4 separate regions of the Homo sapiens genome follow, and regions 1, 2 and 3 are each reported to be linked to region 4. The links are microRNA targets in miRTarBase. Many come from high-throughput screens and were not tested one by one. Region 4 holds a microRNA gene; each other region holds the end of a gene's coding sequence. Distances are from middle to middle.
Evidence for each region. The annotated mature microRNA hsa-miR-365b-3p reads UAAUGCCCCUAAAAAUCCUUAU and lies in region 4 at 3,553-3,574, shown strand. An mRNA with a match to its seed (bases 2 to 7 or 8) in the 3' UTR can be bound and repressed. Matches are read on the target gene's strand: a 7mer-m8 pairs with bases 2 to 8, a 7mer-A1 pairs with bases 2 to 7 and ends in A, and an 8mer does both.

Region 1 (7,041 bases), 75 Mb from region 4:
GCCACTGATTGTTTCTGACCAATGCTGTGGAAAGGGGGCTTTTCTCACTGAGCGAACTGCAGGGCAGGCCAGATATCACAGGCCTATGAATGCTTTCCAGGGAGCTGCCAGAGGTGAGATTGAAGCAGGCTGTTTCACCGGAGTCGTAATGGGGTGCCTGGTTTACTCAGCCTGCCGCCCTCAACCCCTCGCGGAGGGAGTGTGTGGGCCAATGAGGCAGGACTGGAGTGCAGGATCGCTGGAACTGGCCGGCTGTTTAGGCACCGGTGGGTTCAAACTCCACTCACTTGGACCCTCTGTGCTCCACCCCTTGCAGGAGGGTGAGCAGGTGCAGGAGCTGGAGCAGGTGCTTTTGGGTGCCGGCAGCAGTGAACTCTGTGCAGGCCCCGTGCAGCATCCAGGGCCGGGGTACCTGTGCCCCCCAAAGCCCCAGAGGGCGTGTTACGGGGCTCCTTTAGCTCTGCCGTCCACAGACAGCTGAAGTGTTAACAGCTCAGTGGACCCTCTGCCTTTTCGCGTGAGGCTGCCGGTGAGAGGCAAAGGGCCGGTGTGACCGCCTTTTGTATCCACCTGTGGCTCTAGAGCTCGTCTGGCATCCAGGAAAAATGAGGTTACGCAAACGAATTGAAGGATGGTAAATGTGGGGGATTTTATTGCTGATGAAAGTGGCTGTCAGCAGGAAGGGGAGCTGGAAAGGGGATGGGGCGGGAAGGTAATCTTCCCCTGAAGTCTGGCCACATCTGTGTCTGCAGATGGATTCTTCTCTGAAGTGACACCGTCAAGCTGTCCCTTAACATCCAGCTGCTTCTCCTCTCTGCTGGCTGAGTCTGGGGCCTTTATAGACACAGGATGGCGGGGGGCAGGGTGGGACCATGGTGGTTTAGGAACAGGCAACATGAGGGCAGGAAAGCAGGGATGGCAGTTCTCAAGGTGGGCCATGGTCTCAGGCATTTCAGCTTGAGGGTGGGGCTTCACCAGGAACCTGCCCCTGTCTGCCTAGAATTTCTCTACCTCCTGTCCCCATCAAGATGGCAACAGCTCTCTCTGGGGTGGGACTTTTGGGGGCTCATACTGAGCCTGCCTCTCTGGGCTGCTAGTTTTCAAAGCACCAGAGAGTTGGAGTAAGGAGAATGAAACACGGCAAGTTAAAATGACAAAGCTCTCTGTACCAATATTCAGCTGTTTTTCTTTTTACTTTTTCTTTTTGGAGACGGAGTCTTGCTCTGTCAGCCAGGCTGGAGTGTACTGGTGCAATCTTGGCTCACTGCAACCTCCGCCTCCCAGGTTCAAGCAATTCTCCTGCCTCAACCTCCCAAGTAGTTGGGATTACAGGCATGTGCCATCATGCCCAGCTACTGTTTGTATTTGTAGTAGAGACGAGGTTTTACCATGTTGGCCAGGCTGGTCTTGAACTCCTGACCTCAGGTGATCCACCCACCTCGGCCTCCCAAAGTGCTGGGATTACAGGCATGAGCCACCATGCCAAGCCTCGGCTGTTTTTCTTTAATAAACATTCATTAAATTATTACAAGCCTTAGTTAATAATTTCCAGAGTTCTGAAAAAGTTAATTTTGACAATTTTTTCCCTAGTGGTGTCATTGCTTTTCTCGAGGAGGGATTTTCAGAGGGACTTGCTACCCTGGAAGTCCTGCGTCCTTTCTGTCATATCAGCTCACCCCCTCAGAGGTTCTGACCTGGGACATAATCAGTCTCTATGTAGCTGCTTTGAATTGTCATTTATTTCCCCTTTTCTTAATTGTGGGGGTCTTGACTGCAGGGTAAATGGCTCTGGCTGCTGCGATTTTAACTTGGTATCTTTCCTTTTTCTTTCTTTTTGGAGACGGAGTTTCGCTCTTCTGGCCCAGCCTGGAGTCCAGTGGCACGAACTCGGCTCACTGCAACCTCCCTCCCCGCCTCCCGGGTTCAAGCGATTCTCCTGCCTCAGCCTCCTGAGTAGCTGGCATTACAGACTTGTGCCACCACACCCAGCTAATTTTATATTTTTAGTACAGACAGGGTTTCTCCATGTTGGCCAGGCTGGTCTTGAACTCCTGACCTCGTGATCCACCTGCCTCAGCCTCCCAAAGTGCTGGGATTACAGGCGTGAGCCACCACACCCGGCTGGTATCTTTTTTTTTTTTTTTTTTTTGAAGACAGAGTCTTGCTCTGTCCCCCAGGCTGGAGCAACCATCACAGCTCACCGCAGCCTCAGCCTCCTGGGCTCAGGCGATCCTCCCGCCTCAGCCTCCCGAGTACCTGGGACCGCAGACGCGCTCCACCATGCCTGTTCTTTGTTGTTGTTGTTGAGACAGGGTCTCATTATGTTGTCCAGGCTGGACATGAACTCCTGGGCTCAAGCATCCTCCTGCCTTGGCTTCCTGTTGTGATTATAGGTGTGAAATACTACACCCAGCCTGATTTTTGGTTTTAGAGACAGGATCTTGCTGAGCTGCCCAGGTGGGAAGGCAATGGCTGTTCGCAGGCTCACTCACGGTGCACTACCGCCGTGAGCTCCTGGACTCAAGTGATCCTCCTGCTGCAGCCTCCCAAGCAGCTGGGACCACAGGTGTGAGCCATGTTTCCAGTTTATCACAGGTAATTTCAGATGTGAGTGACGTTCTGTGCCCAGTAATGGGGCTTTTGGGGTTTATACCACTGCACTCCCCCAGCTGTGGTGTACAACTTGCACCTCGTCCCTGAGCTCTTGCTGATGCCACAGCTGAGCTCTTGCTGATGCCACGGCTGCCTTCTCACTGCCTGTGGGTCCCTCTCTCTAGCTTCAGTATTTCATTCTGCTTTCCAACAGAGCCAAGCTGGGCCCAGTTCCTTCTACTCTCCTGTGAGACTGTCTTCGCTGTCCCCCAGCGGGAAGGAGGAAAGCAGCTCCCTGGTGTGGGGGGAGGTGGGTGGAGGTTGTGTGCGGCTCCACGTGCTGGGGCCCTTCCCCTCCTGCCAGGCTCAGGCCCAGGCCCAGCTGCCGCTTGGAAATGGCGACCCCTGAATGGAGACCTGTCTTGCCAGATGCTGCACGGTCTCCTGGGCAGAGCAGGCGCTCTCTGTGCGGGGAGCTGACGGCTCACGGGCTTTCCACAAAAACCTCTCACCTCCTTCCAGGTTTTACAAAAGCCACCAGCTTCTCTTCTACAGCAGCAAAAGCCGCCATATTTCTTTCCTTTTTCTGTTGAAGCCTGGGGCCTTACGCCTTGGCAAGGTGTCAGCTTCCCTGAGAGGGGGACCCTGTGCCAGAAAGGGGTGCCAGCTTCCCTAAGAGGGGGACCCTCGGCTGGGGAGGGGCACCGGCTTCCCTGAGGGGGAACCCTGTGTCGGGGAGGGGCGCCAGCTTCCCTGAGAGGGGGACCCTGTGCCAGGGAGGGGTGCTGGCTTCCCTGAAGTGCCTAGGGTCCGAGCACTCACCTGCTCTGTGCTTTGGGTTTGTTTGTTTTTTGTTTTTTTTTTTGCTAATGGCAGTCCTCAGAGCCTCCGGAAGGGAAGGCATCAGGAAGGCTTGAGTTACAGGTGGTGGACCCTCAGAGCCAGCCTGCTCCAGAGCCCGGGCTCCCAGGCAGGAGCTGGGTAGCGCTGGGGTCCATGGATGTAGTTGAGCGAGTGGGGTTACGCCATCTTCCTCCAGCTCCAGCCAGAGACTCCCGAGAGCGGTCTGAAGCCCACATGGGTGGCCCCGGGCAGCAGGGTCTCCAGGCTGGCACGCAGGCTCCTGCGGTTCTGGGTACTCTGACGTTTCTCAGTGTTTATTCACAAGTCTCTCTGAGGGGCGGCAGGCTGTCTCTCGTCCCCTATGGCAGGAGGCTGTTTGGGAGTCGCATGTGCGGCATCTCTGGCAGGTGCACGGGAGCCGAGACTCCAGCAGACCAGGGTGGGGGCCGGAAGGGAGCTGCTCTCGCCTGACACCCCTCGTGGGCACCCGAGACAGGGAGGCACAGCATGGTGGCCGGGACGTCGTCACCACTGTGGGCTGGAACTGCAGCGTGCTCTGTGTGACACAGGCTGACTCAGGTTTTTCTTTTAAGGCAGGGCTTAAAGGAAGTTTTACTGTGACCAAAGTTCTGTGATTGAGGGGGTGTGGAGAAAACAAAAAGCCTGGCCAAGATGGTGAAACCCCGTCTCTACTAAAAATACAAAAACTAGCCGGGTGTGGTGGCAGGCGCCTGTAGTCCCAGCTACTCGGGAGGCTGAGGCAGGAGAATTGAACCCAGGAGGTGGAGGCTGCAGTGAGCTGAGATTGCGCCACTGTGCTCCATCCAGCCTGGGGGTCAGAGCAAGACTCCATCTCAAAAGCAAGCAAAAAACCCCCAAAAACCCACGAAGCCCCCAAAACAAACCACAGCTAATCCGAACCCAGAAAAATAGACTGGAACCTTCTGGCTTCTCCACACCCCCACCCCAAGCCCGTAAATGAGGTGGACAACCCTGCCTTTGCTCAGGCTCAGCCCTGAAGGGAACAGGAGGGAATCCACAAAAGTTCTGTTCACAGATCGAAGACAGGAGAGGGGGCATGGCCCCACGCCTACCCCCAACCCCACGCAGGGGCCCAGCTGGCGAGGGAGCTCACAGCAGCCTTTGGGGGAATGAAGCCACTGCCCCCGCCACTGGCTCAGCCTGGCAGGGCTCAGGGACCCTCCCAGGTCGGGCTCCTCCGCAGGGGACCCAGTGACCAGGACCCTGTTGATTCTGATGCACGGGCAGTGTCTGCTCTTCTGTGGGGGTTGTTTCTGTAGCTGCCACTCCCTCCCCAGCACCCAGGTACAGGGGACAGACAGCTCAGAAGGAAAAGGGTGAGGCGCCTCCATCAGCTCACCCTCCTGTCACGCCGGGGGCCAACAGTCTCCTGGAGCCACACTGGCTGGAGGGTCCTGGCAGGCATCCTCTGTGCCAAGATCCTCTGAGCAGAGGCCTCGCATCTCCATGCTTGCCTGAGCTGCCTTCCAGCCAGGACAGGGCTCTCAAAGCGCGGACCCTCACCAGCTGCAGCTGCCAGGGAACTGTGGGCAGGGGCACAAGCCAGCCAGCCACAAGCTGAAGCTCAGGGGCGTGCACAGCTGGCCACGGGGTCTGGCCACGGCTGCAGTGCTCAGATCCGTGGGGAGTGATGCTCCTGTTTCTCTCCAGCTCCTACAAGAGGCAGTAATTCCACAGCATTCCCGGTCTGTGCAAAGGCAGAGGACGAGGGGAACAGATAATTTGTTTCAAAATTAAAAGCTAACAACTTGGTAGGAAAAAGGTTTTCTTTTTTTTCAGACAGAGTCTGCTGTGGAGTAGGGTGGCGTGATCTCAGCTCACAGCAGCCTCCACCTCCTGGGTTCAAACGATTCTCCTGCCTCAGCCTCCGGAGTAGCTGGGACTACAGGCGCGCGCCACCACACCCAGCTAATTTTTGGTATTTTTAGTAGAGAGGGGATTTTGCCATGTTGGGCAGGCTGGTCTCAGACTCCCGCCTCGGCCTCCCACAGTGCTGGGATTACAGGCGTGAGCCACCACGTCTGTCCTGGGAGTAAGAAGGTCGTCGAGAGGGGCGACACTGTGTCAGTCCCACACACAGCCCCTCTCCTGGAGGGACGCACTGTACAAAGAGCATTTTAATTAATTTATTTATTTCTTTACACATAACTGAAAGTGATGTTACAGTACATAAGTTATTTACAACTGTGCAGTAATGTGTTGCAAAATAAATTATCTAGAAGGCAGCAAAAGTACATTGTGAAGGTATATAAAACTGTACAGCGTTTACGGATACACTTTTTATATGATTATTGGCTCTGTAGTGTTTCAAGTTACGTTCTCAGAAAGAGAAACAAAATGCCCAAGATTAAAGGAAAGAAGATACAAACCACGCGGATTTGACTCCATTTCAATACGGCTGGGAGTCCTGGCTCTGTGTCCCTCCGCCTGGCTCCGCACCAGGTCTGAAGCCCAGTCTGAGGCCGTCGCAGCTCGGCGGCAACAGAACCACGGCTGGGATGGGGCTCCTGCCCCTCCGACCTGCAGGTCACTGTTTGTGAGAGGTGGACACCTTAATTTTCTTTAGTTGATCAGAATGGAACAAAAAATTTTAAAAATGTACTCCGTTCTCCAACTCCTGAAATGCCTCTGCAGTTGCTGGAGAAAAGGGCCCGAAGGTCGCCGTTTTCAAACAGAAGCTGCCGTGTGTGCGCGCCCGGCATGGTCTCCTCATCCCGCCGGGGCCAGTGAGGCTCTGGGGGCTTTGCCCCCGCCGCGGCAGCTGGTAGAGAAGAGACGTGTTTCACCTCCCCGACGTCTGGACCAGTCTGGAAGGGATGGAGGCGCTGTGGCCAAGTGCAGTCTCTCTCGGGGTCTCTCCCCGCCCGGGTGGACAGGGCGCTCCCTCCTCCGCCCCTGGGGCTCAGCAGCAGTCCTGGGCAGCCGTGCGGCCCTCGCCTGCGTCCTGCGGCCGTCCCGCGGTGTCATGCCGGCAACAATACAAAGTCGTCGTTGACGTCGACCATGGGCACGTAGAAGGAGGGCACCTCGTTCACGCACAGGGACTTGTGCCCGGCGGGGTCCAGTTCCTGCACCTTCAGCTGCCACTCCATCCTCTGCACGGCGTTCAGGGCCGCGGCCTCGTGCTGCTGCCGCATGAGGAGGCAAGTCTGCGGGACACACAGCGGGGAGAGGAGGGAGGAGGAGTGAAGGGAGAGCCCCAGACTCTGCCGACCTCAGCTGCCAGCAGGGCCAAGGGCGTGATACGGCCGTGAACCTACCCTGGTATGGGCCAGGCCCAGCTGTACCCGCTCCTGGCATCTAGTTACTACACGTGGCGGTAGCGCCAGCTGTGCTACATGTCTGTCCCCATAACCGCTGTCTATGCCACCTCTACCCTGGCCTGGGGCTCACCCTGGCCCGGGGGCCCTGCCCTGCTCTGGGTGGGCCTGGGACTCACCTCCAGCAGCCACTGCAGCTTATTAGAATCGAACAGCTTTGCTTTTGTCATTTTACAATTACTTACGGCCAGTGATAGTTTCACTTGTATTTCTAGTAGAAACTATGCCATTTAAAAGTGCACAT
Region 2 (7,458 bases), not on the chromosome of region 4:
CTATTTACCTTTGAGTCTCACATTACTATCTTTACACTAGTTAACTGCATATTCCATTTTCTAGACCTTTTTTGTTTGCTGCACTCTGTCCTGTAGATCTTTTCTATAACATGCATTATAGCATCTGAAGTGGTATGCCAGTAACATCCAAACCCTGCTGCAATTCAAAATTTTCGTTGAAATGTTCTACCCTAAAGAATTATCTGGGCTGGGCGCAGTGGCTCACGCCTGTAATCCCAGCACTTTGGGAGGCTGAGGCAGGCGGATCACCTGAGGTCAGGAGTTCGAGACCAGCCTCAACATGGAGAAACCCCGTCTCTACTTTAAAAAGTACAAAATTAGCCAGGTGTGGTGTTGCATGCCTGTAATCCCAGCTACTCGGGAGGCTGAGGCAGGAGAATTGCTTGAACCTGGGTGGTAGAGGTTGCGGTGAGCCGAGATCGCGCCATTGCACTCCAGCCTGGGCAACAAGAGCGAAACTCCGTCTCAAAAAAAAAAAAAAAAAGAATTATCTGAAGTTTGCCTTTCAGACATTTCTATATTTTTCAGAGATCTATATACATGATTTGATATTTGAGGGCTCAAGTCTCCATTTAATTTTTTTTCTTAATACTTCAGTGAACACATGAAACTTGTCTTTGTTAGCATGGATTAAAATTAGAGTCGGTTGCTTGCTTTGACAGCACATACACTAAAATTGGAATGATACAGAGAAGATGAGCATGGCCCCTTGCAAGGATGACACAGACATTCATGAAGCAATCCCTATTTTTATTGAGTTCTGGCAAAAAATAAATAAAATAAACTTAAGAGTCAGGCGAACTTAATTAGATAGTTATAAAAATGTTCGTGGGAACCTGATACTTTAGTCCTTCTGGTTTTATTTTCAAGCAAGCACCCAGCCTATGGCTGAACAAGATTTTATATACGTCATCTGAACGTATGGTCTTATCTATTAAAGGCCGACAAACAGAAGTCAGCAGTCAGAAGAGCACAAGAGCAGAGTGTCTATGGCCTGGCCAGGACACCAGGTGTACCTGTTGGCTTCTAGTTCCTCTGTCAAACAGCCAATTTAGGCCAAAGTACACACTACAGAAGTGACAGAGCCATGATTCACTCTATTTGTCATCAACTCTGGAACCTGTGGTTTTTGTCCTCTCTAGGAGCCGGCCACAATGCTGATAGCCCTGAATTGGTGGCCCTCAGTGAATGCTCTCTAGTGGCTGATAGGTGAGAGCGCAGGTAGCAAGATCTGAAGTTGAAGACCTTGTTCTGCTACTAGAGAACACCCCTGAGTAGTTTGACATCACCAGTCCAGGAAGAGGCTGGTAGTCTCAGATACATACATGTACCGTTCTTTGCTGTAAAAGCTGAGCTAGTTGACTGGCCACTTAGGCAGCCAAAGTTTATGGTAGCCGGAAGTGACCACACCATATTACCAGGGTCTGAGATTTTCATTACTTTGCATTTGTTGTTTTATCAGACCCTGAACTGGTTTATATTACAGGAGACAAAAGAAGGAAAATTCAGAAAGCAGTAGCAAATCACTTACCTATAAAAATGACAAAAATGTTTTTGGTATATTCTTTTACAGCCTAAGGAAATACATTGTAGTGTCTAATCAGGAGAGCATGCAAATAGTTACTTTTAATATGTTCTAACCCCAGCTGCCTGAATGTCACTTCAAAATTTAACACACTAATTTATTAGCTGTTTTTTAAAACCTGAGTATGTACTTTTTCAGTAAACAAATGACTTGGGCTGGACGCAGTGGCTCACACCTGTAATCCCAGCACTTTGGGATGCTGAGGCGGGCAGATCACTTGAGCTCAGGAGTCCAAGACCAGCCTAGGCAAGATAGTGAGACCTAATGTCTGTTTTATTAATAAATTACAAAGTTAAAAATAAACAAAAACAAATGACTTGTAGATGATTGCTGACCATTCTGTTTTAGATTTCTAGTGCTGCTGCTGTGTAAGCACAGCTATGAGTCATTGAGCTTAGGGCATGTAATTCTTTTGTTGAAGCCCCTTGGTTCTCAACAAGTAAATGACAGTGGTGAATGATGGGAAGTAGGTTGTTTTTTTTTTTTTTTTAATTAGTGGTCATGTGAACTGGAAATGGACATTTCAATTTTGTAAAACTTATAACTGGATTATGCAGAAACTTGCTTGTTATAAGCAAGTTACCATTGTAAAAACTAATAGGGATTTCTAACATAGTTTCTTTTATTTTTCTCATAGTGCGTAAGAGACGAGTTGAAGGAGATCACCAGTAAGTCTGCAAAGGTGTAATCTTTGGAAGACTTCAGAAGATCACCAAGGGCTCATGTTGGTGACATCATGTAAAATTTTCCTGGGTAGAAGGGAAAAGACTGGAAAAATTTTTTTAGTGACATGCATTTTTTTTTTAGTTGTTATCAAATTGTAAAATCAGTAATGTGATATTTTATATTCTGAAACATTTCTACTTTCTGCTAAAATCAATTTTAATTTAGTTTAATTGAATGATTTATGATGAATCTTGGGCAAAAAAATACAACTGTAAAAAATTTCACAGGTCATTTGTGTAGAATAATTTGAACATTGTGAGGACCAATCTTTTTTAAATCAAAAGGGATGTTGCTGGTATCAGAATTGTTATTGCTTCATTTAGACATAAAACACTTAAGTGTTTTCTTCACTCCGTGACCTGGAGAGTTTTCCATTTTTTAAAATACATGAACTTGGCAAGGGTGTGATTTTTCTTTATCAAGAGAACAAAATGCCAGAATGTTAAAACAGTTAACTCAAAATCTAGTCATCTGTGTAGGAGCTAAAGCAGGTCTCCAGGGAGAGAGGGTGGTCGTCTGTGCATTCCAGGTTACTGCACTTGTCTGATGTGACGTAGCAACACCCAGGTCTTCTTAAAACAAAGTCATCAGCTTTGCCAGGTTACATACTTTATTTAAAAGTATAGTGAGGTCGAAGTTCATTCCAGTGTTTCATTTTAATAATGTGGGCATTATTAAATTTTTGTGGAAGCTAATAGTAAAAAATAAAAGCTGTTTTCACCACCTCCCTCCCCACCCCCCAAAAAAGGCGTACAGCCAACTCTTAGTTATTTAGGGTAAGAGAAAAAAGAAAACTGTTAAACAATGAAATCAAAGATAATAAATATGATAGATTTCCAGTATGAGGCACTTGCAAAACAGTCATTTAAACTGATGGTTACTGTAAGTCAGTTGGAAGCTGGCATGTATGTAAATTACTTGGTGTTACACCATATCCGAAGAAGTTCCTATGTGCAGTGCAGAATTGCATAAACAGTATTTAATCACTGCTACAAATCTTCCAACCAAGAAGGAAAACTGCTATTCTTCATAAATCTAATTTTTAGTATATGCTTCCTTTCATCTTATACTTTTATCAATATTTATAAAAGTCATTTCTATAATAAAAGCAGTCTTTCTTGCTCAAAGTATTAAGGTGAACAATTGAATAGAGTACTGTGGTCGGGAGACTGATTTGAGACTGCAGAGCTGATGCTGGGTAGAGGGTCTGGACTTGTATTCATGTTCTGTCTCAGGGCAGCCCCTGGAGCAGGAGATGGCAGAGGCATTTACAGCTGCAGAAAACAGGGAGGAATGGAATCTGAGGTAGCCCTGGCCTCAAAATTCAGGCCTGGCTGTATCATTTACAGAGATTTTTCTGGAGGGAAAAGTCTCATTTCTGAGGAAGGCAAGGTGGCTAATCATTATTAATTTTTTTTAAACTTTTTGGGCCGGGCGCAGTGGCTCACGCCTGTAATCCCAGCACTTTTGGGAAGCCAAAGTGGGTGGATCACTTAAGGTCAGGAGTTCAAGACCAGCCTGGCCAACATGGTGAAACCCTGTCTCTACTAAAAATCAAAAAAGTAGCCGGGTGTGGTGGTGCACACCTGTAATCCCAGCTACTCAGGAGGCTGAGGCAGGAGAATTGCTTGAACCTGGGAGATGGAGATTGCAGTGAGCTGAGATCGTACCACTGCACTGCAGTCTGGGTGACAAAGCAAGACTCTGTCTCAAAAAACAAACAAACAAACAAACTTTTTGAAATTGAATTGCAATATGTCTGCTACTTTGGCTTGGGCTGGACAGTTTATCTAATAAGCAAGGCAGCTTCTTGTGTGCTATGGTAATAAGCCTTCTTAACAGGCTAAGCTTCCCTCATAAGAACTGTGGTGTTTCTCTTTTTTTTTTTTTGTTTTGGTTTGTTTTGGTTTTTTGGTTTTGTTTTGTTTTGTTTTTTAAATCAGTATCCAATGTTTTATAGGGGCCAAAGGTTAACTTTGCACTATTCCCTGTCAGTTAAAGGCCACTGATATTTTTCTAAGTTAGCAAGGCTCACTTGCTTGCTTTCTTGCCTCCCTTGCCTCCATCCCTCTCCCTTCCTACCTTCTCTATTTACCTATTTCTCTCCCTCCCTCTCTTCTCCTCTCTTTTTTTTTCCCCGCATATGCAGCTTTTTGATTGTACTTGATTTTATAGAGACTGCACAGTTCCAGCAAGATTGGGAGTCAGGCATGGAGCAGGCATCTCAGGCTACCAGAAAGAATTGGTCACCTAGACTTTCAGTCAGGCATCCTCGTTTGCATTGTCCTGTAAGTCAATTAGTTGATAAATAGTTCCCCCTTCATCCCTTAAGTTTTGTTTTTGTTTTTGTTTTTAATATAGGTAAGTGGGACTCTACCTAAAATTTTGCATCATACTTATGGGTAATATCTTTTTCATATATTATTTATCAAAGTATGAAGTTGAGTATTTTGCTTGTACCATTTCAATTCTGCATTATAGTAGTTCATTGTATAACTGAAAGAAATGATTTCTTCATAAGTGACATTAAATATGAACATTCATCCAATTGAATTTACAAAATCTTTCCAAAATTATAAGGGAGAAAAATCGGGTTTACTTCAATCTTTAAAAATCTGGCACCTCTTAGTAACTTTCAGTATTTCTAAATTGCTCTAAAATTTTATAATAAATAGATTAGGGTTTTGCAATAGTCTTAATTTTTAAGCCAAAGGTTTTCTGAGACCTTAGGTTTTGTAGTCTAACCAGCTTATGTGGTTATTTAAAAGAATATTCTTTGTGTTTTTAAATTGCTATTTTTAAAAAAGCTTTTTATTACCCATTTTATAAAATGTTATACTCATATTTGTCTGAATTTTTCCAGTATTCCTACATGAAATTGTATGTATTAAAAACTCAATATTAGTGGCAAATATTAATACTATTAAAATGGATTTTGGTGCTATATTCTTGTAGCTAAAGCCTAGTAGAATTCTCAAGAATAGGTGAAATACACTTTCAAAGTTGCCTGTCATTTAAAAGACCAAATAAGCATTTTGTATTAAATAAATTAGCAGATGGTTAGAGACTTCAAGGAGAGTTAGCTTGGTCATTTAATTGCGACTTCATGTTATTTGATTGAAATAACCCACATCCTTGCTTTGTATAAGATATTCGCTCTGGAGAAGTTACATGTAAATAGAATTCTATAAATTGTTTTCCAGTTGACCGAGTATCTGTTGTGTTTTTGTTTAAAAAGAGGATTCCATGACATAATAAAAATTATTTTAAAAAATGTTTTGGGCCGGGTGCGGTGGCTCACGCCTGTAATCCTAGCACTTTGGGAGGCCGAGGTGGGCGGATCACCTGAGGTCAGGAGTTCGAGACCAGCCTGACCAACATGGAGAAACCCTGTCTCTACTAAAAATACAAAATTAGCCAGGCGTGGTGGCACACACCTGTGATCTCAGCTACTCGGGAGGCTGAGGCAGGAGAATCACTAGAACTCGGGAGGCGGAGGTTGCAGTTAGCTGAGGTCGCGCCATTGCACTCCAGCATGGGCAACAAGAGTGAAACTCCGTCTCAAAAAAAAAAAAATTTTTTTTTTTTTATAAAATGTTACTCATATCATATTGTACGTTATATTTAACTCTTGCTGTCATTAAAATAAGATGACAACATTTATGAAGTTTTATAAAATCTTACATTTTAGGGTCTGTGTTCCCAGGGCTGCCTCACTTTTTCCCTAAAAAACTAGGAACCACTGTTAACCTCCCAGCAGATGCAAGGATCATGCTTTCTCTGGAGTCCTTAGTCACTTCCATTCTTTGCAAGTTTAGTACTGCCCAAATTTACTCATTCTACAGTGTTACTGCACTTTGAACGTATTGACCCATGTCACCCAAGAGAAGCAAACATATGGATGCACTAGAGACAACTCGGGTTGCTGCTCTCAGTTAAGGGCTATGAGTTCTTGGGGTCTAAGTATCTGTAAAATTATCCTCTCCATCAGCTCTCACTGATCATTAATGTTTCTGGATATTTCTTACCCTAAGATTTGCTTACCAACAAATCAAAGAAACGCTTCACTAATTATTTTTAAATTGAGAAAATAGTATTCAGAGGCAAAGATTTTTATATTCTTTTTTGAGACCAAGTCTCACTCTGTCATCCAGGCTGGAGTGCAGTGGTGCGATCTCAGCTCACTGCAGCTTCCACCTCCCAGATTCAAGTGATTCTCCTGCCTCAGCCTCCCAAGTAGCTGGGATTACAGGCGTCCGCCACCACGCCCGGATAACTTTTTGTATTTTTAATAGAGACGGGGTTTCACCATGTTGGCCGGGCTGTTCTCAAAGTGACCTCAGGTGATCCACTCGCCTCGGCCTCCCAAAGTGCTGGGATTACAGGCTTGAGCCACCACACTCAGCCTTATTCTTATATTTTAATTTGGTCATTCTTAGATCTACAGATTGAACATCCCTAATTGAAAACTTTTTGAGTACTAACATAGTGTTCAAAGGAAATGCTTATTGGAGCATTTAGAATTTCAGATTTTCAGATTAGGGATGCTGAACTGGTGTAATGCCCAGTATTCCAAAATCCAAAATAATTTGAAATCTGAAACACTTAATGGTCCCAGCATGTTGGATAAGGGATACTCAACCTGTATTGATTTTTCTCCACTATAATTCAGTTCTATAAGTTCTTCCCTATAAAAAATGAATGAATTAGAAATTTGATAATAAAACATATTTTATTAATTTTAAACTCTATCTTGCAGTCTGATCATTCAGAAAGGTCAACCTAGAAAAAAGACATGGCTAAGTAAACTATTTTAAGCCATAACTAAGTATTTTGGAAAGCCTTCATTAACACATAAAGAATTTTGGCCAAGTACTGTGGCTTATGCCTGTAATCCTAGCACTTTGGAAAGCCGAGGCCGACGGATCACTTGAGCTCAGGAGTTTGAGACCAACCTGCGTAACATGGTGAAACCCCATATCTACAAAAAGTACAAAAATTAGCTGGGTGCGGTGGCGCATGCCTGTAGTCCCATCTACTCGGAAGACTGAGGCAGCAGAACCGCTTGAGCCTAGGAGGTGGAGGTTGCAGTAAGATGAGATCATGCTGCTGTACTCTAGCCTGGG
Region 3 (7,458 bases), not on the chromosome of region 4:
TATCTGGGTCTAGTTCCCAGAGTGACTGCAGACTCACTGTGTGACCCTGGACAGGTCCCTCTGTTTCCTCCTCTGGAAGATGGAGACATACTTTCTCACGGGGTTCTCAGGGGTTTCAGGGAGCCCAGGGGTGTTGGCAGGAGCAGAGGATGACTGCGCTTACAGCTGCTCTCCTCCTGCCACCGCAGGACGTCTGCGTGGTCAGACTGTGCCCACATGGGGCCCGGGACACCCAGAACTGCCGCCTGCTCTACTCATACCTCAATGATAGGCAGCGCCACGGGCTGGCCTCTGTGGAGCACATGGGGATGGTCCTGCTGCCCCTGCCTGCCTTCCAGCCCCTGCCCACCAGGCTGCGCCCTTTGGGGGGCCCAGGTGAGTGCCTAGTCCCCATACCAGACCCTGCCTCTGCTCACTTGGTGACCAGACCAGGCACGGTTGACACAGTCACCCAGTAGAGGCAGGCACATCTCAGAAGGGAACTCCTCACCCAGCCAGGCAAATGTGAGTACAATGACAGTAATAGCTCACGCTTGGATATCATGAACTGCATGCCAGCCATTGTTCTAAAAGCTTTACCTAGATGAATTCTTGTAGTCTCATCACCCTATGAGAATGGTACTATTAGACTAGACTGTCCATCTCATAGAAGAAGAATCTGAGGGAGGAAGAAGGCAAATGACTTGTCCAAAGTCACACAGTCAGTCAACAGCAGAACTGGGCTTCACTCTGTTCACACGTTGTGTGAAGCACAACATGGCTTCAGAAACCTGGCCCCTAACCACCACACCACACTGCCTCTCAAGGTAGGCACCCCTGAAGAGAAACTCCAGGGACAGCCACATTTGACCCAGGCAGCAGGACAGAGTCAGGACCTACACACACTTGACTGTAAATGTCACCTCAGAGAGGAGGGAGGGATGTTTCGCCACAGCCACGGGGGGCCGAGCTCGGCCTCTGTGCATGGACACCCTCCACGGCGTGGCTCAGGAAAGCAGCGAGGTTGGCAGTGGGCGCTTTGCCCACTCCTGAGCAAAGCGCTTGGCCTTTTGGGGCTCCATGTCCTGAGACAATGAGGTAGACTTTGAGTCTGTAGAGTCTTCAGGTCAAACAATCCATACCCCAGCCTCAGCCAGATAAGCCTTGATCCCGCAGAGCTCAAATCTTCCGAGACAGCCCCACCTTCCTACTTACTTTTCCCAGCATCTCATGGGCCCCATCTCACTGTGAAGAAGCCCTTCCTGGGATGTAGGCTCCAGATCTGCTGCAGCTAAGCTGAACACAGTTCTTCCCCGCAGGCCTTTGGGCTCTTCCTGTCTCCCCTCTCCTTTCCCCAGGTCTGGAGGTCACTCACTCAAGTCTGTTGCTGGCTGTGCTGCTCCCCAAGGAAGGGCTTCCAGACACAGCAGGGTCCAGCCCCTGGTTGGGGAAGGTTCAAAAGATGGTCTCCTTCAACAGTAAGGTGGAGAAGAGATACTATCAGCCAGATGACAGGAGGCCGAATGTGCCCCTGAAGGGCACCCCTCCCCCAGGAGGTGCCTGGCAGCAGAGCCAGGGCAGGGGCAGTATAGCTCCAAGGGGAATCTCTGCTTGGCAGAGGCCCCCCAGAGGCAGGGGGAGGCTCTGGCCAGAGCCTGAAAACTGGCAGCATCCTGGGCGAGGGCAGTGGCCCCCAGAGCCAGGCTTGCGCCAGTCCCAGCATCCCTATTCAGTAGCACCAGCTGGTCATGGCTTTGGCCGTGGCCAGCACTTCCACAGGGACTCCTGTCCCCACCAAGCCCTGCTCCGGCACCTCGAATCCCTGGCGACCATGAGTCACCAGCTCCAAGCCTTACTGTGCCCCCAGACCAAGAGCTCCATCCCCCGCCCTCTGCAGCGTTTGTCTAGCGCCCTTGCAGCTCCAGAGCCCCCTGGCCCAGCCCGTGACTCCTCTTTGGGGCCTACAGATGAAGCTGGCTCTGAGTGTCCCTTCCCTAGAAAGGCCTGACCCTCCTTACCCACCAGAACAGGGGTTTTGATGCCCTCACTAGTGTTGAAGCCTGTTCCAGAGAGAGGTGGGACTGCAAGGAGAGGATGGTCAGCCCTACCCACCTGCCCTGTTTGAACTTCCTGTTTGACAATGTTTGCTGTTGATTTTTTGTTCAATAAAGAATTTGGTAAAATTGGGATTGCATCTGCTAGCTGGTCAGGAGAGCCCCTGGTCCTGGTCAGATGTGGGTTGAGTGGGTGTGTCAGTGAGTGTCTTGTGCACAAATGTGCAGCCTTGCTCATTGCTGGTCTGAGGTCCTGAACCATCACTGCGCCCCAGGGCACAGCTATTGCCACGGTGGTTTCTGGAAGCATTTTGCAAGTATTCTGAACCAGGAGGAAGAGGTGGTGGTGGGAAAGAAAGTAGGACCGAGGTTGGGGGTGGAGAGAGAAATGGACAGAGCCTTTTGGAGGGTCACAGACATCAGACATCAAGAGATTGCTAGAGAGGAAAAGATAAGCAAGTTGCAGTGGACTTTAAATTTTTCAGTTAATACTAAGATTTTTTTTTCCTTTGACTAGATGGGGAAGGATAGTACATACCTTCACCATATTCCCTCCGAGTCTCTGTCTATGTGCTTCTCAGGGATCTCTGTGCACTAGTGTGCCTGCAAGCATGTGAGAGTATCTGTGTGAGTTTCATGGCCTGCCTGTGTGTAGGTCTCTGTTGAGGAAGTCAGGAGATCCAGATTGGGTGACTCCTCTCTGTATCTCTTGCCAGATTCCAGAGACTGGTGTTAGAAAATGTCAAAGGTCTTAGCCTTGGTGGTGGGCATTCAGGGTGGGGTTGGAGACTGGTATTAGGGTTGGACGGTGCTGCCTTGCCTTGGGCCTAGAACAAGCTTCTAACAGCAACTGCAACTGTCAAGCGTTTCATGTGGGGTGTACCTCGAGAGAGCTGCATCTGCGGACTGATGGGGGAACCAGCTGCCAGGGCCAACCAACCCAGCGTGGGGAAAGGGGCCTGGCTTCCAGGAGAGAACCTCTCTAGAACCCCACCCTTCGCCCCGGGGCCAGAAGGGCCCTACCCGCTCTTTGCTCACCCCTTCGCAAAGTCCACCCATGTACAGGCCTCACCCTGGCCCCTGCTGGACTGGAAGGGGTGGGGCGATGGTCGGTTGGGGGAGCCCTTCTTCTCTGCCCCATGAGCTCTGCGGCTGCCCTACCCGCGGACGACAGCAGAGGGGGCCCTCGGCCTTGGGATGGAGGTCGGGGCTGGCAGGACCGGAGTCAAAGCGGGGGGTGGGGCGAGGTGCGGGAACTTAGCGCAAGGAGTTGGAAGCGGGGGCGGGGTAGGATGCGGGTGGGGTGCGGGTGAGGGGTAGGGAGAGGGGGCTGGACAGTTGAACCGGGAGAGGGAGCGGGGCTCCTTCGGGAACTTTTCCGGCTCGAAATGGCCTGGGAGCGCCGCAGCCTCCGCGCTCTATGCAAATGACGCAAATTACTATGCAAACCTACAGCTTGGTTCTGAGCCCACAGTTTGGGTGGTTTTCCTAATGCAGTTGGTATGGAGGGAAACGGGTGTGCACTCCCTCCCCTCCAGGTCCAGGGCTTCCTCCGGAGAGCCGCCAGAGCCGCTCTCCTGGAACACGCAGGCAAGAGCGAGCTCTGTACCCTGGGCAGGGATTTCCTTTGGGAGCTTCAGTTTTCCCTTCTGTAAATGGGGGTGATAACGCGGCTCTGTAACAGCTCGCCCGTGGAAGGGCTGTAGGTGGGCCCCGAAATCCTGCAGCCTGCTAAACATGACACCCTCCCCCACCCCCGCCACCTTTTGGCCCCAGTCCACGAGCCCCTTGCCCCTCTCTCTCTCGGCAGAAGCCTGGAGCGAGGATTAGGCATGACGTTGCTAGGGGGCGTGACTGACGGTTGCTAGGCTCCAGGGACGTTGCTATGCAACGCTGGGCGGGGCTTGTTGTTGCTAGGCCGGAGCCGGAATCGCCCGGGACCCGGAAGGGACACCTCGCGCCCTGGGTTTTAGTGGAAGGCGCCCCAGGCTACCAGGGATCGCGACACTGCTCTCCCGGTGACTTTCTTCGGGCCTGAGCTTCCCCCGGCTGGACGCAGTTTCTGAGGGTCCTTCCGGTTCACACTCTGCCACTCCGTGATCCTCTTGGCTCCGGAGTGAAGAACCCTGCGTCTTTGTGCACGTGTCTGTGCGCCTGCCTGTGAGGGGGGTGGGGGTGCAGAGCGGGTATCGCTTTTGGATTTCCATAGCAACTGCTCCTGTGTCACCCCATTGCTCCCAAAGGTTTGAGCGGTTGCTTGTACAAATTTACATATATCTGCATGTCATTAACATAGAGGCGGGGCCGGAACTTGTTTGGGCAACTATCCCTGGACGGTTCTCTTTGCTTCTTCCTCATCCCGTCTGATAGGCATGTGGGCTGCGCATGCGTGAGTGTTTAGCCTGTCCATGTTCTCAGATGTGGGGTGGATGAGTGAGCTGTGACAGTGACCATCAGTTCCCTTTCCCCACGTCCCCTTATTGAACCCTTAGCATGAATCCATCCAGATATCCCTGACTGAAGACACCCAGCTTCCCAAGCAATGCCAGGCCTTGTTGGCACTCCAATTCCTTTTCTGGCTGTGTGGCCTTGACAAGTTTAGTTACCCTCTCTGTGGCTCAGTTTTCTTCTCTGTAAACAGGGATACTAATCTCTAACTTACCAGGTGATGGGAGGGTTTAACTGGTTGCCACTTTTACACACACTAATTGCTGCTTTCTGGCCTACAGTAGGCACTCAGTGGTGCTCCCTTCCTCCCTCCCTGGAGCCCAACTCTTCTCAGAACCCAACCAAAGCAAATCAACTTCAGTTGCCGCTTAAGACATGACAACTAGACACCAGAAGAACTTCCAGATGTCAGGGCAGACTGGATTTGATGCACAGGATGAGGACTATTGTTTTCTCTATTTGTCCTTCTTGGAAGCTGGAGGTCAGGTTGGTGAGTGTGGACCCTCCTACCGCCTCCCCCTTATACCCTTGTCTCTCTCAGGGAGCCCACTGGTTTCCAGAAAACTTGCTTTCTTGTCCCAAAGGCCTGGAGCCTGAGACGGCTGTAGCAGTGACAGCTGAGCTTGGGAGGCCCGAAGACCAGGGCAGAGCAGGTGGTGGCTAAGGAAGTACCTTCCAGGACTGAGGTGTTTGGGATGGAGCAGGACTGGGATGGAAGGGAGACTGAGAGCAGAAACTGCTTGGAGAGCCACATGTCTGTTCCTTTACCAGAGAGGACTGGGGAACCCTGGGGCCACCCCCTTGCCCTTTCTGAGCCTCAGTTTCCCTGTTGTAGGCAGTAAGGACTCCTCTGTTTCAACTTGTGTGGGGGGTAATAAGTCAGCTCAGTATGGAGAACCTTCTCGTTGCTGCAGCTATGTAACAGTGCCATGGAGGGAGTTCCCTGTTCTTTGCACTGTGCAAGCAGAAGCCGAGAGGGACCCCTTAAGTGTGCTGGATAGGAGCAGCAGAATTCCTGGAGGCTCTTGTTCATTTAAAAACTGGGGTTGGCTCCTATCCTGTGTGGAGGAAGATTGTTGGTGATGGACAGGGATGTAAGAACTGGGTTCCAAGGGGTTGAGTGGCTTCCTGGAGGAGGTAGGACTGCATGGAGACCATACTCTGCAGTTGTCACTCTGACTGCTGTATGCAAGACTGCTGTCTGCTGGTGGATGGCGGTGGGCCAGCCAACTGTGCTCCACAGGTGAGGGTTCCAGGGACAGGCTGTGAGCCTGGCAGTGTCCGGCTGGCCCGCCTGTGTCCCACTCTGGGGGCCAATTAAGTCTCCATCCCTAGTCGCGCCGATTAACAGTTAATAAGGCAGCAAACACCTGCAGCTATGGAGGCGAATTAAGAGCAACAGTCGGCATAATACACAACCCGATAAGTGAGCAATTAACAACCGGAGAAAGATTAATAGAAGCAATTACGTTCCTACTCGGAGCTCTGTAAATACAACTGTCAATGGCCAGGGTATTCAGTTCAGTCCTGCCTGGCCCCACCCCGGGCCACAGCCTCTGTTGGCAGGGGTGCCCACTGAGCCAGACTGTGGATCCTGGACCGCAGAGGCATGTACACAGGCACAGATATGCAAATGCACACAGAGATATACACATCCAGACATACTTAGAGAGGTGGCCCACAGAATGCAGTCATATAGATATAAAAATTCCCCACTGTCTCACATACTCGCATTCACAGACGGGTACACACAGACACACATAGGGCCTTCCAGAAGCATACACAGAGATACACAGAAAAATACCCACAGTGTCATAAAGATACATTTTCACAGAGCTAGAGCCACACAGACTACCAGTGACACTCACATATACAAACAGACGTGTAGACACACACAGATTTTTACTCATAGGGTCACATATGCATGCAACCCTCCTGTGATGCCCTTCAGAGGGTTGTCCATAGTGGGTGAGGGCGGCAGCAGGGCCCTGGACTGAGAGAGAACTGGAGTGAACTGGAGAGAATTGAACTGAGAGAGAACTGGAGGGTGGGAGGGGACACGGGAGGGACAGAATGTGTGTGAAAACATGCAAGTGTGTCTGCATGCATGTGACTCTAAGCATGTGCATCTTTGCAAGAATGTGTTTCACCCATGTATGGGCACATTACTGTGTGTAAACATGCATGTGCCTATACGTCTGTGTGGCTGCATGAGGTGAGTGTCTCATGATGCCTGGGTATATGTACGTGTACTGTGCCCAGCAGATCTGTGACTACACATGTGGGTGTCTGGATCACGTGTGATCACGCTGTGCCAGTGTCCATGTCTAGGTAATTGTGTGCCTGTACTTCCGAGTGGCTTTACATGTGTCCTGTCTCTGTGCTGGGGCCAGGGAGGGACGCTTCCCTGGGAAGCCTGGGATGGTGCCTGAAAGCAGAGTTGTCCCCCCACTGCCCACCACCGGAATGGGGCTCAAGGACAGGCAGGGATGCTCTCAGCCTGACTTGGCTTCCCTCACAGGGACTTCAGCCCCTTTCAAGAGATTGACATGGAGGTTAATTTCTCCTGCTTGAAAGCTGAGCCAGGAATTCACTGAGCACCTTCCTCTTAAAGCCACAGCTCCAGTCCCCACTGGGCTCAAGCCCTCCCCACCCTTGTCTCCACCCTGAGCTTCCCTGGGAAAACCCCCAGACGTGAGACCCATGCACTTTGCTCGCGTTCTGGGACATACACTGTCATGCACAGAATACAGTCATGCAGACACACAAACATGGCCAGTCACGAATACGAACACATCACATTTTGCTTGTGACACCCCGACCTAGCCAGTGTGTGCACAGGCTGGCCACACACACAAAATCCCACACAGCTGCACCCCCACATGTCCACTTGCCCATCACTCTCTGAGATGAGCCGAGTGCCAAGCCGGAGGGCCCAGAGGGGTATCCTGCGACAGGTCCCCCCACCTTCCCCAGC
Region 4 (7,458 bases):
TCAGATCCTTCCCACCACCCTCCTACACACCCCCCTCAACCAATAAGGAAAAAAAAAATTCAGCATGGAACTGCTGGATACACTGAATATATTTTGGCTTTTCTCTTTTTGCCTCTGTGTGAGAAACTTCATTAAGCAGTTGCTGTTCCCTCCCCACCCCCGCTAACCCCCAAAGAAGTGTGGATTTAAGAAAAAAAAAAACAAAAAACAAGCAACTTTGAATTTTGTTCTTAGCAATCCCCAAGCCATAGCTGATCTCAGAGAGGCAAAAAAGATGTTTCAATAGAAAAGAATACGGTATGGCCAGGAGTAAAATATTTAGAGGTGGTTCTGCAATGAATATGATACTTCCTTAAAAATAAAATATATGTTGGTGATTCAAACCAATGAAAGTTGGAAAAGTCCCTCCAAGGGAACACTCTCTCTGTTTCCCTTCCCAGCAACCCCCCAACTTAACGTTATGAACAGAAAGATGGAAATTCTTGCCAGATCAACTATAGCCTCCTAACGATCAGCTCACCCTCCTTTAATTTTGATTGTGGAGCAAATACAGCTATTTTAGCCATGAGGATAAAAATGAGTGCAGTGAAAAGTTAAGGCAAACTTGGTACTTAAAATCACTCACCAGAATAAAGTGCGTGTACAAACAAAACATTGCTGATCAGTTACTTTAAGCAGGCATTTTCTTTCTCGCCTGAGCACCCCAAACACAGAAAAATGTAGAGTTCTTTTTGCTTCTTGTATCTGGAGCAGGTGAAAATAAACCCTGACGCTCACAAACATGATATAAACAACATACTTTTCAGGCCTAGTAGCCAAGCCGACTTTTCAGGGAAAGAGATGGACGTTGAAAGAATTTAGGAGTGGACTTGGGGTTCCCTCCATCACCCCATGCCCAGCTGACCCCTTCTGCCCTTCTCATGACCTCTTTTCAAAGCAGCCAGTGTTCAGATGCTGCCTTTCCAGCGTCCCCAGTTGTAGGGGACATATGCACATATTTACCAAGCTTTAAAATAAGGTTTCTGATTTTATATCATCCGTCTGAGTTTACGGAACCACAAAGCAAACTTCTTTCTCCGTGTCCCTGAAATGCTGCCCCACTGCAGCAAAGGGGACTTCGCCTGGGCAGGGAGAGGAGTTAGTGGCTGGTTGCGCCTAAGGTTAGCTGTGCGGTGTGGTATGACAGTTTTCTCAGAGATGTGCAAAAATCTAGGCTCTCTTGCTGGAATCGTGTGAGATCAGTGCTGGGCCTGTTGGCATTGGCATTTGTGCCCAAGACAGCCCAGACCTCTGCCAGCCGAGGCCCAGATGTGGCCTCAGAGCCACTACTGGTGCCCAGACAAGTCCAGACAGGTGCCTGGGGGTCTTTCCTCCCGAGACGAAGCCTGCAGCAGTTCAGCCAGAAGATGGGGTATTTGGCTCTCAAAGTCAGCCTCCCCAGAGACTCTGCAGGGTTTAATAGCCTGGTGACCCTGTGGGCTCTGGCGAGGGCAGAACCCCACTTTGCTTTCCAAATGCTCAAAGGGGAACAGATGAGGCTATCCCACAGGCTCAGAGCAAATCTGTCCTGTGTGAGTGCAAACGTGGTTCTAGAAGATTCAGAGGCAAAGCTGAGCTTTTGCAGCCCAGCCCCAAGCCCTTGCTCTCGAGCACCAGGGCTGCGATCCTTCGACTTGGGGTGGGCCTAGGAGGCGTAGCTCCCAGCCAGCAAGACAACACATAACACATCTGAGTTACCGTGCATGTGTTTGCTGGTCTCTTCTCCAGCTCCGTGAGGCCTCCCACCTGGGAGCTGAGCCTTTTGCTTTGATCAGGCTGGGAGGAAAACCTAGGCCAGGAAGGGCCGGGCTGCAGGCTGGAAGTGGAAAGAAGTGGGCCAGGTGGACAGAAAAAGGGGCCACCAACTAAGCCACCTTGGGGGTCGGCCCAGAGTGAGAACTGGGCTGGCATTCTGGGTTCAAACACACAAGAAAACTGTCTGCAGCCTCTCTGCCCTGGCACCAACATGTGCCTGCTCCAGGAAGTTGCACCCAGCCCTGAGTCAGCCAAACCCGTGGGACTCCCATTTGGCCCCAGTAACTGGACTCCAGGCTACCAAAGGCCTCGTGGGTTCTCGATCGTATCTTAGAATGGCGTTAAAAGGTCCAGACCCGGCACCTGTAGGCCATGCCGTATTTAGCCCTAGGTTCACCCGGAGAATATTTTAGGTGCTACTTGAAAGAAGAGATCTGGGCCCTAGTTGCCGGCTGTCACATGGCAAGGGTAGAATCGCTCCCTCACAGACCTGGCCGAGATGGCCGGGTGCTCACTGGTACAGGTGCCCAGAGTCCCTGCCAGAGCTTCGGGGCCATGCGACGGGTGCCAAGGAGCCAGCTAGCGACTGGGGCGTCGGTTCTGTGTGGGGATGCCTTTTCACCCCGTTCTCAATCTGAAGGCAGTGAATCCACTTCCATTCACAGAACTCACAGAGGCCTCTCCTCTCTGAGATGGCCCAGTGTGATATCCCAGGCTGCGTAGTAAGCTCCTCCTCTGGTGTCAGCCATGTGGAGGGGTTAACCCTTTCCTGGCTCTGAGGGTGCTGGCTGGCACAGGGGGCACCCACCTGCAGGGCCTCAAAGGTTATATGCCTTGGGGAAGACACCCTGAACTCCTTAGTCCTCAGATCTTAGTGGCTGAACCAAGAGATGGCACCTGGGACCTTAGCAGTAAAACCCGTCCCCTTTTTTTTGAGACAGTGTCTTACTCTGTTGCCCAGGCTGGAGTGCAGTGGTGAGCACAGCTCACTGCAGCCTGAACTTCCTAGGCTCAAGCCTCATCCTCCTGAGTAGCTGGGACTACAAGCACACACCACCACACCTGGCTATTTTTTGCAGAGACTTGGGGGGGGTCTCACTGTGTTGCCCAGGCTGTTCTCAAACTCCTGGCCTCAAGCAGTCCTCCCACTTTGGCCTCCCAAAGTGCAGGGATTACAGGCGTGAGCCCCCACGCCAGCCGGTTTGCCCCTTTTGCACCACCAGCGATAACCACTCAGCTCCCCTACCCAAGCCTTAGTCCTTCTGTCCGTGTTGTGGAAACCAGGTATTTTCATCAGCATTTCCAAGGGGACTAAGTTTCTCCCATTCCAGAGGAGGAGGTGTTGAAGGATAACTTAGATCATTAATGAGGGTCTGGAACAGTCATCTGAAGTTTGGGGGAAACGTCACGTCTCCTATGATGCGCCTGGCTTTAGGGAATAATCCTTGTATCCATTTTGGGAACCTGCTCTGGGATTCCAGATCTGTGGTTTTCTGAGCACGTCTGTGTGGAAGCTGCTGCACTGAGACCTATTTAGCCAATTATTGAGAAGATGAGGTCCCTTTCGTGAGTCTGCACGGAGCCGCCGTACACCATGAAAGCGCTCACTTGTTTAAAGTTTGCTCTAACTTTGTACATTTTTTCCTTTTTAGTTTTGGCTCTTGGTGCTCTGAGAGCTACCACTTCCTGCCAGCTGGTTCGTTACCGCAGGGAAAATGAGGGACTTTTGGGGGCAGATGTGTTTCCATTCCACTATCATAATGCCCCTAAAAATCCTTATTGCTCTTGCAGTATTCCTCGGGGGTCCCTGGGCCAGAAAGACATCAGCTCGGAGTTCCTCCAGCAACTCAAAGAAGAGAGAAAGCTGTTCCCCAAACTCTTCCGCTGTAGCGCCTTCTGGGTCCCTGGTAGATGCCTTCTTGTGCTCAAAACCGGTTATCACTGTGAAAAATTGAAAGACGCCATGCGCAGACACTGGTTGCTAAACGTGCTTTTGCCCTCCAGGGGCAGACGCTGAGATCCGGCCTGGGAAGGAGTACAGCTGTGGCTCCCCATCAGCGTCAGCATTTGCTCTGGGGGGTTGTAGGGGGAGGTAGGGAAAGCGGAAAGAAACAAGTGTTACCTGTTTGACGAGGCCTGGTCCTTGCAGCCAGGGCCTCCGGGATCATCGCCTTGGCAGGGGGCCCTGGGGCAGTCCTGGCTTTCCTGCTAGCTCCCTGAGACAGAACACTTTCCCCGCTCGCTGCCTCAGTTTCCCCATACACCAAGGGAGGGGCAGCACCCCCTGCTCTGGCTTCAAAGGGTTCTTGGATGTAGCCAATGTTATATATAAAAAGCTCTAACGTTGTATAAGCTCTGAAGGTGCTTTGAAAATTGGAGAGTCCATGCATTAAACATGGAAGGTAATAATATGAATACACACAGAGGAATTCATGGGTGGGGAGACGGCAGCCCAGCACTGAGCCTGGGTTTCTGGGATCAGCCAGGCCTGCATTCCAGCCCGAGCTCTGCGCCTCTCTTGCTGTGTCACCCGGGACAAGTGAGTCAGTCTCTCTGAGCCACCAGCTCCTCAGGCATGAAACCTGTAACTCAGACTCCCAAGTCTGATTTGCACATCTCTGATTTTAAGCGGCGCCGGCTAAAGGTGAAAATTATTCTAGTAGGTATTCTTTGCACCGCTGATTTGTACTTCAGGCAATTGGTTGGTTTTCCATTTAGGGTCGGGAGACAGGGGCCCTTTTTTTGTCCATCAATTGATGTCAGTTAAACAAAAAAGAGTGGGTGTTTTGGAAGAAAAATATTAAGCAACTACAGCTGCCCTGAGGATGGGACAGAAATCAGAAAGTCGTGTGTAAAGTTTCAGAGGTCCACTTTTAGAGAATTCTTGTTTATCTCAGGGATTTTCCGCACTCCTGTAGTCGGTGTGGGGAGGGGTGGGGGGAGATGGGGGAGTTGCCAGTTCAGATCTGTAGAGGGCTCCAGCATGACAAAACTGGGTGTCACACATCTTCCTTTTGGGGGTCGGGAAACCACCCTTCCCTGCTCACCGACACCACTGGGACCCCTCACCCCCCCACTCCTGCATTGATCCATAGCTCAGATTTCTCTCTCATTTTAGGGTCACGATGACTCAGCACCCTCCTTTCTGGCCAGGGCACCTCCCTTGGCCTCTAGGGGCACTTGCCTGACAGGCCTCACTGTGCCGGACCTGGGAGCCAGCTGCCCACCAGCCCCCTGGGACTCTGGTTTTGCAGGGAAACCATGGGTGATCAGTCCCAGCCGGCAGGGGCCAACTGCGGTTTCACTTTCTGCTGCATCATGGGGTGGGGGGTGGCAGCGGGCCCCCGCTGGCCAGCTAGAGCAGGCACTGAGAGGCCTGCAGACAGCTGCCGGCCCTGCTGCCAGAACGCACCCCCCACCCACCCCCTGCAGCCTGCCAGGATGGGGGCTGGGCTCTCAGGAGCCCCTTAAATCTTTCCACCTGCACAGTGTCGGGGACCTCAAGTGAGAAAAGCCTGGAGCCGATGAGATGGTTTCCTGAGCTGTTGGAGATTCCCCCAAAACAACCTTTTTTTTTTTTTTTTTTTTTTTAATTGAGACAGGGTCTCTCTTTGTCACTCAGGCTGGATTGCAGCGGTGCAGTCAAAGCTCACTGCAGCCTCGAACTCCTGAGCTCAAGCGATCGTCCTGCCTCGGCCTCCCAAAGTGGTTGGGCTACAGGTGCATGCCACCTAGTCCTGCCCAAAACAAGCTTGTAAATCACGCAGGCTAGAAACTCAAGAGAGCTGTGATTGTTGCTTCTGGGTCAGATTGCTGTGGCTAGACACTGCTTCTGCCCTTCCTTCCCTGGATAGATGGCTGCTGAGGCCCTACTGTGTGCGGAGCTGGGTGCCAGGTGCTGGAGGTACAGCAGGGAGCCAGACAGCCCCTGCCCGCATGGGGCTCACAGTTGAGTCAGGGGAGACAGACAAAAGAATCAAAGAAATAATCCAGCCGGGTGCGGTGGCTCACGCCTGTAATCCCAGCACTTTGGGAGGCCAAGGCGGGTGGATCACGAGGTCAGGGGATCGAGACCATCCTGGCTAACATGGTGAAACCCCGTCTCTACTAAAAATACAAAAAAGTTAGCCGGGTGTGGTGGCGGGCGCCTGTAGTCCCAGCTACTCGGGAGGCTGAGGCAGGAGAATGGCGTGAACCCGGGAGGCGGAGCTTGCAGGGAACGGAGATTGAGCCACTGCACTCCAGCCTGGGCAACAGAGCGAGACTCCGTCTCAAAAAAAAAAAAAAAAAAAGAAAGAAAGGAAAAAAAAGAAATAATCCCACGTTACGATGGAAATTTCACGCTGAATACTTGGTGTTAGGATCTCAGGAAGGGATCATGCATACATGTCTGTCATGAGTCAACTCCCAGAACACATAGCATAGGAGGCAAGGGAAGGCTGCCCCTTCACCCGCTAAAAGTTTGCTAAAAATAACTGACAGGCCAGGCATGGTGGCTCACGCCAGTAATCCTAGTACTTTGGGAGGCCGAGGTGGGAGGATCACTTGAGCTCAGGAGTTCAAAATGTTCCTGGGCAACATAGTGAGACCTTGTCCCTATTTTATATTTATTTTTTAAAAGTTTTTACCAAAGAAATGACTGACAACAAGTGGATTAATAGGAGAAAAAAGCATATGAGCCGGGCGTGGTGGCTCATGCCTGTAATGCCAGCACTTTGGGAGGCCGAGGCATGAGGATCACGAGCTCAGGTGATCAAGACCATCCTGGCTAACACGGTGAAACCCCGTCTCTACTAAAAATACAAAAATTAGCCAGGCGAGGTGGTGCACGCCTGTAGTCCCAGCTACTCGGGAGGCTGAGGCAGGAGAGTGGCCTGAACCCGGGGGGCGGGGCTTGCAGTGAGCCGAGATCGCCTCACTGCACTCCAGCCTAGGCGACAAGAGCAAGACACCATCTCAAAAAAAAAAAAAAAAAAGAAAAAGGCATATGAATTTATTCACCATGCATAAACGCCAGGGGAGTGGCGGGAGAATGATTATCCAATAACCCAGTGAAGTCCATCGCTGGGCACAGTGGCTCACACCTGTAATCCTGGCAGTCTGGGAGGCCGAGTCAGGTGGATTGCTTGAGGTCACTAGTTTGAGACCAGCCTGGGAAACATGGTGAAACCCTGTCTCTACCAGAAATACAAAAAAAAAAAAATTAGCCAGCCTTGGTGGTGCACACCTGTGCTCCCAGCTACTCGGGAGGCTGAGGTGGGAGGATCGCTTGAGCCCCGGAAGCAGAGGTTGTAGTGAGCCGAGATCACGCTGCTGCACTCCAGCCTGGGTAACTGAGACCTTGTCTCAAAAAAATATAAAAATATAAATAAATACTTCCGTCATAGAAGGGAGATGGGGGAAATGCGGCCACTCTCAGGGGTAGTAAATGATTTTTAGGAGGAATGAATGGGTCTGATGCTGGGACAACGGTCAGTGAATAATTCCTTTAGGGAGTCGAATGGGATCGGAGGACAGATGATAGTTTGGGATGAAGTCCGTCTGCACTCCAGGTGTGGTGTTTCATTTCATTCTCTTCCTCTGTGATATGAGTTTTCATCTCTGGTTAATGAAATTTCAGTGAAGGAGTCGAAGGCAATTGTGTTCCTCTTTGGCGGGTGTGGT

Region 1: the mRNA of ANKRD11 is a reported target of hsa-miR-365b-3p. Seed matches in the 3' UTR shown: 7mer-m8 at 5,814-5,820.
Region 2: miRTarBase lists TMOD3 as a target of hsa-miR-365b-3p. Seed matches in the 3' UTR shown: 8mer at 2,999-3,006.
Region 3: miRTarBase lists SPOCD1 as a target of hsa-miR-365b-3p. The part of its 3' UTR that is shown has no 7-base or 8-base seed match.

The regions. Positions count from the first base shown.
Region 1 is chr16:89,262,038-89,269,078 of GRCh38, forward strand. ANKRD11 (ankyrin repeat domain containing 11) reads right to left here. Exons shown (of 13, transcript NM_013275.6): 13 at 5,593-6,626. The coding sequence ends at 6,441. Among named protein-coding and RNA genes, the nearest start is that of ZNF778, 48 kb to the left of the region's middle.
Region 2 is chr15:51,906,533-51,913,990 of GRCh38, forward strand. It overlaps TMOD3 (tropomodulin 3), which reads left to right. Exons shown (of 10, transcript NM_014547.5): 10 at 2,244-7,458. The coding sequence ends at 2,278. It also overlaps the pseudogene RNU6-90P. Among named protein-coding and RNA genes, the nearest start is that of LEO1, 62 kb to the right of the region's middle. RefSeq lists an enhancer at 1,826-1,995.
Region 3 is chr1:31,785,132-31,792,589 of GRCh38, reverse strand. It overlaps SPOCD1 (SPOC domain containing 1), which reads left to right. Exons shown (of 16, transcript NM_144569.7): 15 at 189-375; 16 at 1,299-2,168. The coding sequence ends at 1,987. Among named protein-coding and RNA genes, the nearest start is that of ADGRB2, 25 kb to the right of the region's middle. RefSeq lists silencers at 3,198-3,487, 3,818-3,867 and an enhancer at 3,653-4,428.
Region 4 is chr16:14,305,788-14,313,245 of GRCh38, forward strand. It overlaps MIR365A (microRNA 365a), which reads left to right and starts at 3,498; the gene lies at 3,498-3,584. All of the region lies in intron 1 of MIR193BHG (MIR193b-365a host gene), which reads left to right. RefSeq lists enhancers at 683-1,368, 1,369-2,053, 2,849-2,898, 4,785-5,079, 4,871-4,990 and 1 more and a silencer at 4,665-4,959.